Regions from separate parts of the Homo sapiens genome. Here region 2 is linked to region 1. The links come from fine-mapping of genetic effects on gene expression. A gene starts in region 1. The other region holds a variant in brackets. All regions are shown on one strand. Distances are from middle to middle.

Region 1 (5,489 bases):
CACCCCATTCCAGCCCAGCTCTGGCTGGGAGAGTGGGGAGGTGGTGCTGCCGTCTTCCTGCAGGAAGGCCCCTGATAGGGGGCAGGAGAAGCAGCACATTACCAGGTTGTGCACCTGGTGGTGCCAGCCACTGGGCACAAACACCATCTCGCCCGCTTCCTGCGTGATCTCCAAGGGTGGGCCAGCAAGCTGGTTCCGTGGGTGCAGGTGTGTGTCGCAGAGTGCTGGGGAGGTCACGTCGTAGGGCAGGTTGCCGTGGCGGTCCCGCAGGGCCTCTTCCTGCCCTGGGGGGAAGAGGAGCCACTTCTTCCTCCCACAGACATTGACAGACCAGCTGAAGGAGCGGAAGATGTCAGCATGGAACGGGGACCTGCGGCAGCAAGAGCGCCTGGTTCATGCCTGTAGGGGCTGGTATGGGCTTTGCTTGGCACCCCAGAGGCCTGGTCCAACTGAAGGAGGGGTGGCCCCTTGGTCTCAAGGGATGGCACCCACTGTGAGGCCTGTGCCAAGCAGCCCCCCTCCTGCCACCCTGGGCCTCCCAGTCCGTTCTGTCACCAGGCCCCTTCGGGTTCCACTCCCACATCCGTGGCCTCACCAGCTGCCCGCAGGCCCCGCGTAGACAAAGCGGTAGTCATCCACATCCAGTGCATCCCAGAACTCATTCAGCCAGTCGGACGAGAAGTACACAGGCAGGGTGAAAACGTCCTCCACCGGAAAGTCCCTGTGAGGAGGGCGCAAGGGCACCACCGACAGCACGTGAGGCACGAGGAGACTAGGGCAGCACGAGTGGGGCAACTGAGACCAATCGGCTCCAGTGGAGCTTCCAGATGGCTGCAGCCCCCAAAGAGCCCCAGACCCTCCTCTGAGCCAGACGCTGCTGGCGGGGGAGGGGGCGGGGCAGTCTGACTACAATGGTTCTGCTTATTAGAAAGTACTGATCATGCCTATAATCCCAGTGCTTTGAGATGCTGAGGTGGATGCATCACCTGAGCTCAGGAGTTCAAGACCAGCCTGGGCAACATGGTGAAACCTAGTCTCTTTAAAAAAAAAAAAAAAAAAAAAAAAAGCCGGGAGTGGAGACGCCTTCCTGTAATCCCAGGTACTAGGGAGGCTGAGGAGATCTCTCTCAAAAAAAAAGGAAAAAAAACCATATTGACCTCCCAAAGAACAACACTTGCAGCCATGCGGAAGACAATCCAGTTTCTTTTAAACTGATTAAAGTGCCTCACGGGGAAAAATAGCTCCGTTGTGCACCCAGGGGCCACCTTCATCAGAAAGGCCTCTGGGTTCACGCAGCGCTAGGGAAGGCAGCGCCTCGGTGCGTCCCAAGCCCCATTACCTGCACAAGTGCCAGTCTTTGAGGTAGAGACAGCCCCTGGGAGAGGAGTAGCCCGCCTGTATGTACTCTTTCCAGTAGGTGATGTAGTCTCTGAGAGTCATGTGCTCTTTGGGGTTCGAGTTGTATTCCTGGACCCCACAGTTTGCAACTGGTACAACCACGTCTCCTGAAATGAAAGGCACGGTCCATGCCATCTCCCTGGGCCCCGTCCTCACTCCAAACCGTCTGCAGAGGAACTCTCCAGGGGCCACGCGCCTGGCCTCCCTCACCCTCCCTGGTGCCCCTCTCTAGGCGGGGGCCTCCCGGGCCTGGGTCCCGCCGGCCTTTCCTCCCCGCCCGGGGTCTGCGGCCGCCGCCCCACCGTAGGTCCGTAGCAGGTGGTCGAAGTCGGGCCTCCCCGCGGGCGTCACCCAGCGCCGCCGGCTGCCCCAGCCCTGCGTGAAGGCGCTGGAAAACACGCAGGGCAGGTTGGGCAGCAAGAAGCCCCGCACAAAGTCGGCGTAGGAGAAGGCGCCCGGCTCCGAGACGAAGGCTACCCGGCCCGGAGCCTGGCCGACGCCGGGGACATCGACCCCCAGGCCTCGGAAGTGGCTGTCGGCGAGGGCGCGCGTCTCGCGGTCCATCCAGCTCAGCACGGGTCGAAGGACCCTCCTCCTCACTTCCGCCGGAGCGGAAACGGTGAGGACCAGCCTCGGAACCAGAAGACGCAGGGCGCCGCGTTTCTGCCCCGCCAGCGCCTGGGGCTCCGGGCCTGCACGCATGCGCGCGGCTCGCCGCGGTCTTCACTGCGCAGGCGCCGAGCGGCCGAGGCGCCGCGGTCGGCTCTGGGACTCGTCTGGCGTCCCTCAGGTGAGCGACGGTGTTGGTCTGTTGGGCGCCCGGCCCAAGCCAAGCCGTAGCGTCCGCCCTCGGCTCAGTCCGCGCGCTGTGGCTGACACAGCCCGAGCCCTCCTTCCCGCATCCCCGGGGGGTGGGGGGTATGCGGGCTGCGCTGGGAGAGGGGCGGGGACAGAGGCGGTTCTGGGGGCGGGAGTGCGGCGGTGCGGGGGCGCCCAGGGATGATGGGACCCGGAGAGAACGGTGGGACCCAGAGGGAGAGCTGGGGGGCCCTGGGATGGTGGGATCTAGCGGAGATGGTAGGGTCCTGGAGGAGATGGTGGGGACCTGGAGAGGACGGTGGCACTTGGAGGGGATGGAGACGGGATCTGGAGGGGACGGTGGGACCTGGAGGGGATGGGGACAGTGGGGACCTGGAGAGGACGGTGGGATCTGGAGGGGATGGGTACAGTGGGGACCTGGAGAGGACGGTGGGGACCTGGAGAGGACGGTGGCACTTGGAGGAGATGGGGACATTGAGGACCTGGAGGGGACAGTGGGGATTTGGAGGGGACGGTAGCACTTGGAAGGGATGGGGACAGTGGGTTCCTGGAGGGATCAGTGGCACCTGGAGGGGACATGGGATCTAGAGAGGATGGTGGGGACCTGGAGGAAAATGGTGGGAGGGCTGGAGGGGGCAGGGTAACCTAGATGGGCGAATGGGGCCCACAGGGGACCTGGAGGGCATGGCAAGGGGCCCCAGGGGATGACGGGTGTCTGGAGAAGATGGTGGGGAATGAGGGAGGGTGTGAAATGAAGGTGTGGTGGGAGTGTGGGTAGGGATTTGGGGCTGTGTACACATGAGCAGGGCTGAAGTGGGAGGACATCGGAGTAGTGACATGAGGAGTGTTTTGCCAAACTTGCAACTGGAGTTACCCCAAAAGTGGCGGCAAGGGAGTTCCCCACACTATCCTCAGGTGGGACCAGTTGGGATACCAAAGAAAGAAGTGCTAAATGCATGGTAAGCCCAGAGCAGTTTTTTTTTTTTTTTTTTTTTTTTTTTTTTTTTTTGAGACAGTATGCAGTGGCACCATCACAGCTTACTGCAGCTTCCACCTCCTGGGCTTGATGAATTCTTTAATTCTGCTTCAGCCTCCCAAGTAGCTGGGACTACAGGCATGAGCCACTATGCCCAGCTTAGTTTTGTTTTTTTGTTTTTGTTTTTTTTTTTTTTTTTTGTAGAGACAGGGTCTCTGTGTTGCCCAAGCCGGTGTTGAACGTTTGGGCTCAAGCAATCCTTCTGCCTTGGCCTCCCTAAGTGCTGGGATTACAGGTGTGAGCCACTGCGCCAGGCCCTGCCTAGAGGTTTTGTTAGGGGAACTTTCATATAGAGTGGGCTGCGGTAGTCCTCGAGACGGGCAGTAAGGGAAAAGGGATGTCCTCCCTAGGTATGTCTCTTGGAAGGGGTGTGGGTTATGGAGTTTATAGGAAGGTTTCAGGAATTTGGCTCAGGGCCAAGGCCGTTTTCTTTGTAGTAAACCTAGATACTTTCTTCCATGCCTGGAAATGTTAAAGGCCCTGGATTGGGTTGAAGCCTGGTGGGGAAAACCTGTGGTTGGGGCACAGAGGGATCAGGGTACTCTGTGATTTTCGGCCAGGACACGAAAGTGGGGCCATGGGGGACCCTATGTGATGTATGTCTTGGTGTGCTGGAGAAATCAGCTCAAAGCTACCCACATGGATGCAGAAGGAAAGATAGCAGATTTATTGCCCCCGAAGCCTGGCAGGCTGTGTGCACATAGGTGCTCTGCGAGAGAGTGCAGAGTCTGGGCAGCATTTCCCAGGCGTCTTGACAGGGAGGTGGAAGGAGGAACAGTTAGAACCGCTCATCTCTCCCAGAGAAATGAGAGGCAGCTTGTGCTGGTTTGCACACAGTGCGAGGCCTTTGAGTTAGGTTTGGAGGTCTGATGACATTCTAGGGGCCATCAGACCATGACTGTGTCTTGTAAAATCTGGACACTGGGCTATCTCATTCCAGACCAAACAGAGGCATCCTAAGCGGGAGAGGGGCACCTGCCTTCCCTTTATGAAGCAATGGAAATGTTGTTTTATTTACTCTTATAAGTGGGGATATGGGAGGTTCTAGGAGTGCTGGGGCTCTGAGCCTTGCTGGAAGACTCTTTCCAAGGGGTGTGAGGTTTACCCAGGAGAACAGGGAGGAGCAGAAGAGGGAGGACCAAGGTCTGAGGAGTTGGAGGGAGGACTAGGAGGAAAGTGAGTTTTGGGAGTCTGAGTCCAGGTAAAGGTGGGATATGAGGGCAGGGACAGGAGGCGGAGAGTTGTTTTGGGGATTGTGTGATTCAGTGCGTGCTATGGTCCCTTCCTAGTCAGCCCTATTGTGGCTTGTGTGATCACGGTATGCAATTGTTTATTGGGGTTTTTTTTACACTAGAGAATCAGAATGTCTGGAGAAGTTACAGTTGCAGAGAAAGAATCACCTCCAGTTCCGTCCAGAGATGACTGGGGTTTTTTTGCTTTGGTTTTTTTTGGTTTTTTTGTTTTTTGTTTTTTGTTTTGTTGTTTTTGCTGTTTTGAGACCGCGTCTTATTCTGTCACCCAGGCTGGAGTGCAATGGCATGATCTTGGCTCACTGCAACCTCCGCCTCCCAGGTTCAAGTGATTCTCCTGCCTCAGCCTCCTGAGTAGCGAAGATTACAGGCGCGCACCACCACGCCCAGCTAATTTTTGTATTTTTAGTAGAGACGGGGTTTCACCATGTTGGTCAGGCTGGTCTCGAACTCCTGACCTTGTGATCTGCCCGACTCGGCCTCCCAAAGTGCTGGGATTACAGGCGTGAGCCACCGCACACCCAGCCGAGATGACCGTTTTTTATTCCTGGTGTAGAGCCGGCTTTTCTACATTCCTTCACACATACATTCATTCATTCATTCATTCTCTCTCTCCACTCTTCTCTCCCCCCAGTCCTTGCCTATACGTTCACGCACATGTATGCACACACACTCACACATACACAGTCTCTTTCTCCATCGTGTATAATATACATATATAAACTTTTGCTGCTTTTAGTCTTTTGTTTTTTATTTAACAATATGCTGTAACATCTTGCCACATATTGACCTCAATATTGACAATTAATTGACCTTAATTGATCTTGCCACATATTGTTCCTTAATTGCTAGTAGTCATTTGATTTTGGTTGTGGTGCATGCAGATCATGGGAGGCCAATGGGGAAGATGTGGGGAGCAGAGTGTTTATAATTGTCTCAAGATCTTGGAATATGGTTCCGAGTTTGCCTCATGGGGAAACTGAAAT
Region 2 (5,235 bases), 32 kb after region 1:
GGTCACCAGAGGCACACATCCTCTGAGTTTGTGGCTGTGTCTTCCAGCCTAGCTTGGCCTGTGCACTGTGGCTCAGTGTTTCAGAGAAGGGCTCCTCAGTGAGCAGCTTCATGTGAGGGCCTGCAGGCTCCTATGGGTAATGCACAAATTCAGAGAAGCACAGTAGTGGGCCGCAGCTTCCCAGAGAGCACCCACATACAGCTTGGGTGTTGCAAACCTAGGTTGTGAAATTGTTGTTGGTTGTAACCAGAGTTTGTTTCTGAAGAGTGGGATAGGAAAACAGCCCACTGGGCAATCTGTCCCGCTGGTGCTATCTGTGAAGGGAGCCCCTTACTTCCCACCTGAGTCTCACCCCACTTCCCCACTTGCACTCGCACCCATCTGCTGGGCCTGGAGCTGCTCCCTCTTTAGGGCCATCCCTGTGCTCAGTCCCCTGTGGCCCTGGGCAAGGCTGGTCCTTCTCTGCTCAGCCGGGTGCTGTCAGGGAGGGTGAGCTTGTCAGGATCATTTGGGGGTTGATAGGCTGGCGGGGGTGGCATCTTGGAGGTGGCATCTCTCCTGTGGAGGGTGGGGTTGGAAGGTGAGCTTGTCAAGATCATTTAGGGAGTGATAGGCTAGAGGGGGTATGCCCTTGGCCCCAGCAAGAGTGCACCCCCAGGTATCCCCCCTTTCCTCTCCTTTTCTGATGTCACGCTCAGCCACTGCTCCCGGGCTGCATCCATCAGGATTGAGGAGGGTACGGGCTCTGCTGGCTGAGGTAGGAACCTGGGAGGGATGCTGAGGCCACCCACCTGCCTGCCTGCCCCATCAGGAGCTGGCACTGCAGCTGCACTCTCCCTGCCTGTTTCCTGACATCCTCGTAAATGACGGCTGCACCAGACGTAGGGGAGCTGCGTGTGCTGCAGAAGAGCAAACAACATTGCGCCCTTATCTGGGCCCCGGGGTGTCAAGGCTGCTGTTGAAGCTGCTCTGTAAATAAAGGGCAGGTGGCCTCTGCAGGAGGCACACTGGGCCACCTTCTGCGGAGCGAGACTGCCTCTGGCAGGTGGCTTGGAGCCCTGAGGCTCACCACAGGGTGGAAACACCCAGGTCCTCTCTGAGCCTGACCACGGGCAGCTCTGACTCACCTCCCACCTCGGTGGCGCAGACGTGTGGCAGTGCTTGGCCTGGGCTGTGGGCCACTTCCTGTGCTCTCCAGAACCTCAGCCTTCTGCAGAGTAGCTCAGATGTCGCTGCAGTTCCCCAGTCGTGTGTGATGTGCATTTCACCAGAGTTCAATGATTCTTGTGTTTTTTACTCCAAATCTTCAGCCTTTCTCAAAAATAAAATAAAATAAAACCACTTGGGATGTAGGGCTTTTACTCTGAGAGGTACAGAGTGGCCACCGTCTGTTTGCAGTGTTGCAGACCCTAATCCTTCGGGGCCGGGTGGCAAGGCAAGGCTCACAGAGGTCGAGAGAGGAAGCAGTCCTGCGTGTGGTGGCGGGAGGAACACCGCCTCAAAGACCACGCTCTGCCATCCAGAGCACACGAGGGTTGTTGCAACTCCGAGAGATGTCACTGCTGACCATCTGCTCTCCTTGCAGCATCTGGGCTGATGGGCCGTACCCTGCACCGTGAGCCACCCGCAGGAGACCAGGAGGGCACAGCACTGCACCTGCAGACAAGCCTGCCAGCCCTTTCTGAGGCAGATACCCAGGAACTAACCCAGGTAAGATGTCCCCAGTGCCATGCCAGCCAGCGCTGTGTCCCAGTCTTCCCGCAGGCTGCTCCTCTTGCCTTTCTGATCACAAACAAGCTCTGGGTCATCCATCCGTATTGGCCTCGCACCAAGGAGGAGCTGCTGGCCTCCACTCGGCAGCTGCAGGGAGGGAGGAAGGGCAGTGTCCGTCCCAGGTCCACACACTTCCTGGAACACAACATGCACCACATTCAGACACATTCCTATGCACACACAGCTGCCCTGGCTACCACCTGCACCCATTGTACATGTCCGTGTGTGTGTGTGCACAGGTGTGTATGTTTACCGTGCATGTACATGTGCATGCTGTGTGTAGTGTGCATGTACTGTACACATTGTGCATTTGTGTGTAGTATGTGTGCTATGTGTACATATGTTATGCATGTACTTGTACTGTGTATGTGCATGTGCATGTGTGTGTACTTGTGAGTACATGTGTGTGTTGTGTGTGTTGTGTGTGTATGCACATGTGTGTGCTGTGCATGTGGTGTATGTGTTGCATGTACTATGCATGTATATGTGCTGTATGTGTACCTTGTGTGTACTGTGCATGGGCATGTGTATATGTGCATGT[CTT/C]GTGTGTGGAGCGTGCATGTACTGTACATGTATGTGTACTCTGTGTGTGCTGTGCATGTGCGTGCATGTGTGCTCTGTATACTGTGCATGCATGCAGGTACATGCCTGCTGTGTGTTGCGTGTTCTGTGTGTGCACTGTATGCATGCACAGTCGGGTGCATGGCTCACTCAGCCCTCATGTGCTGAGCACTGGTTCTTAAGGAGGCTCAGCACTTTGTGCCTGGGAGGCTGGAATTTTAATGTTCAGTGTAAATACTCCTATCTTGTCCAGAGGTTGTTGCCTAACATGCTGGCTTTCCAAGTAATTTTTGAAGCTGTACTCAGTCATCATATCACTTCATTTGTAAATATCTCCATATGTATCATTAAAGGATAAGAGCCATTCAGAAAGAACCGTACTGCCACTGTCGCCTTAGGAAACAGGAAGTCATTCCTCAGCACCATCCAGTATCCAGGCAGTGCTCCCACCTTCTGAGCCCTTGCTGAAGGGTGTGTCCCACAGGGTATGTGGCGCACATGCAGTCTCCAGGTGCAGCTTCCGTCTCGTCTTCCCCTACAGTTGATTCCTGGAAAAAGCAAAGCTGTCTGTTGGGCTGAGACTGTGCACTTTGGATCTTGCAGTTCTGTGTCCACGCAGGGCATGGGCTCCCCGTCCCTGAGCCTCTGAGTCGGCAGGTGGGTCTGGGGCTCTGTCAGGCCCGGCCCTGTTTTTGTAGGGAGTGTTTTGTGGATGGCTCTGCCCATGTCCACCAGGAGGTGGATAAAGACACTCTGTCTCTTATGCCTGTTTTTAAAAACCAATTCTTACTTTACGTGTCTGTGTAGGCATAAACTCCTTTGAGGCCAGCTTGTTTGGGGAAAAAGGTGTTCATATTTGCTCTGGGGTAATTCAAGTGGACACAGCCTGTCACTTTTTCCTCCCGGCCTCACTTAGTCATGTCTGGTAATGGCACACACAGCACTGCCTGGTAGGTGTAGCCAGCTCACTCTGCAGGTTCCTAGTCACCTTCAGATACACTCACTGCCTCCAGAACATTCTTGGCCTGGGTCTCGTTTGCTCAGGGTTTTTGAGAAATCCCAATACTGTAAAGATAGACTTACCTGATTCTTTCCCAGCCATCCTCCTGAGAGTGCCTCGGCACGTGGCTGAGACTGGCAGGATCTGAGCACACCCCACTCCCACACCCCACAAAGGTGTCCACGGCCGAGATACTCACTGTATCCCACGGTTGTGTTTAGACTGAAGTAGGAGCAAAGCTTTAAGATGAAAAAATAGGAATTTTACCTGTTAATTGCAATGGTGGCCATGTAGTTGGAGAGGCCCTCAAGTGTCCACACATCAGACTCTCCTGTCACGTGTGGCGTGTTCTTCACCTCAAAGCCCGGGAGCGTTGGGGAGGTGGTCAGGTGACTGCACGGAGCTGAGGGTGAGTGGGGCTCCCCACCAGCCATCCAGGCTGTGTCTCCCCTGGGGCTGCATGGGCACTGCCATCATTAAAGATCCAGCAAGCCCAGTGGCTCAACACCGGGAGGAACAGGCTTCACATTCACGACTGTGGCATCAAGGCCAGTGGCAGAGCGGGAGGAAGCAGTCACCCAAGGTATGGGGTTGGGAGGGCCCAGGAAGGCCTGGTGTGCCTTGGGGGCAAGGGCAGCACGTTGGTCAGATGCGGGCCCCCTTCCTTGCAGGAGGAGCCTAGTTTCACAGGAGACTGTCTTTTTGAGGCAATACATGTGTTTCCTATTTAGAGAATTCCTAGTGCACAGTTGAAGCTCAAGCAGAAGCCAGAGTGAGTTACATTTCTGGGGAAAATAAAAATGCACGAAACCCCCCTTCATCCAGCTGTGGTTTTTGTTGCAGATGCTATTAAAGCCATCATGCTGAAACGTGTCCCAGTGGTGTGGGTTGCAACTGGGGGTGCTCAGGAGAGGGTGGCTGTGATCACACAGGACAGGCAGGGGTGACACGGCGAGCCCTTCTGTCTCTGGGGCCCTGGCCACTGTGTCACTGTGGTTGTGGAGGGTGGAGGGCCGGGGGCTGTAGGAGGTGGATTTGACAGAGCCCCTGACTTGCTTCTGTTGTCCGCTTCTCTTTGCGGCTGTGGAATCCACTAGGGCCCACGCCATGGACGCGGTGCCTGGACACAGTAGAACTGGAGGTGGTCTAGGGCAGTTCCCTGGGACACTCCAGCTCATGCAGCCTCATCTGTCTTGTCCTGCTTTGGGGTTGCTGTGTCCACGTCCCTCTGTCTCCAGGGAGGAACCAGGTGGACACTCAGTGTCGACAGACACTGGGTCTGGCGGGAGAGTGGGTGGGAGCCTCGCTGGTGCCTGATGGTGGGAAAGAAGCCTGCTGCACTCCTGCCGTGGTTCCTGATAGGAACAGATGTGCCATGGCCGGTCCCTGTGGGCACAGGTCCCAGGGGTTGCTTGGGTGACGCCTCAGCCTCCTGCCTTATGGCATGGGGCGACCAGCGTACCACTGCCTGTGACGTCTCCATAAACAACAAATGCAAACACACATGGTAACAGGAAAGCCATGCAACTCATTCCATTCAGAGTCAAAGGGTTCCCAGGGAGCCGAGCCTGGTGCTGGGACGGGGGTGAGACTGAGGGTGCGGTCAGGCTCACTTGGGGCTCAGGTAGGGCTCACGTGGAGGTGTGGGACTGCAGCTTCTGGGCATGTGGGGAGCCAGGTGTTTCTGTCCTCACGTCTTTGTTTGGCAGAAACCCTCTGCCCACTCCACAGCGTCATGTCCCATGTGGACCAGTTCTGGTGATTTGCTGGAACATTCTGAAGTCATTCTGGGGCTCCCTGCCTTCTATGAAACTATTTTCAGAAGGTAACATCCCTTTCTTTCCTTTTGTTTCTCTTTTTTAGGAACTGGAGAATGCATTGCATCTTCCTCAGGGACCCCC

Evidence for each region. PIP is the estimated chance that this variant, and not a neighbour inherited with it, causes the effect.
Region 2: its variant is the best candidate, but not a certain one, in a credible set for the expression of SNAP47 in prefrontal cortex (BrainSeq, PIP 0.85).

What each region holds. Positions count from the first base shown.
Region 1 is chr1:227,733,312-227,738,800 of GRCh38, forward strand. It overlaps SNAP47 (synaptosome associated protein 47), which reads left to right and starts at 2,124. Exons shown (of 5, transcript NM_053052.4): 1 at 2,124-2,188. It overlaps JMJD4 (jumonji domain containing 4), which reads right to left and starts at 1,991. Exons shown (of 6, transcript NM_023007.3): 1 at 1,701-1,991; 2 at 1,340-1,505; 3 at 596-721; 4 at 103-370. The coding sequence starts at 1,962. RefSeq lists silencers at 1,513-1,712, 2,173-2,462.
Region 2 is chr1:227,765,374-227,770,608 of GRCh38, forward strand. SNAP47 (synaptosome associated protein 47) reads left to right here. Exons shown (of 5, transcript NM_053052.4): 4 at 1,586-1,710. Among named protein-coding and RNA genes, the nearest start is that of SNAP47, 33 kb to the left of the region's middle. RefSeq lists enhancers at 1-596, 597-1,346. The variant CTT/C (reference allele first, on the strand shown) is at 2,315.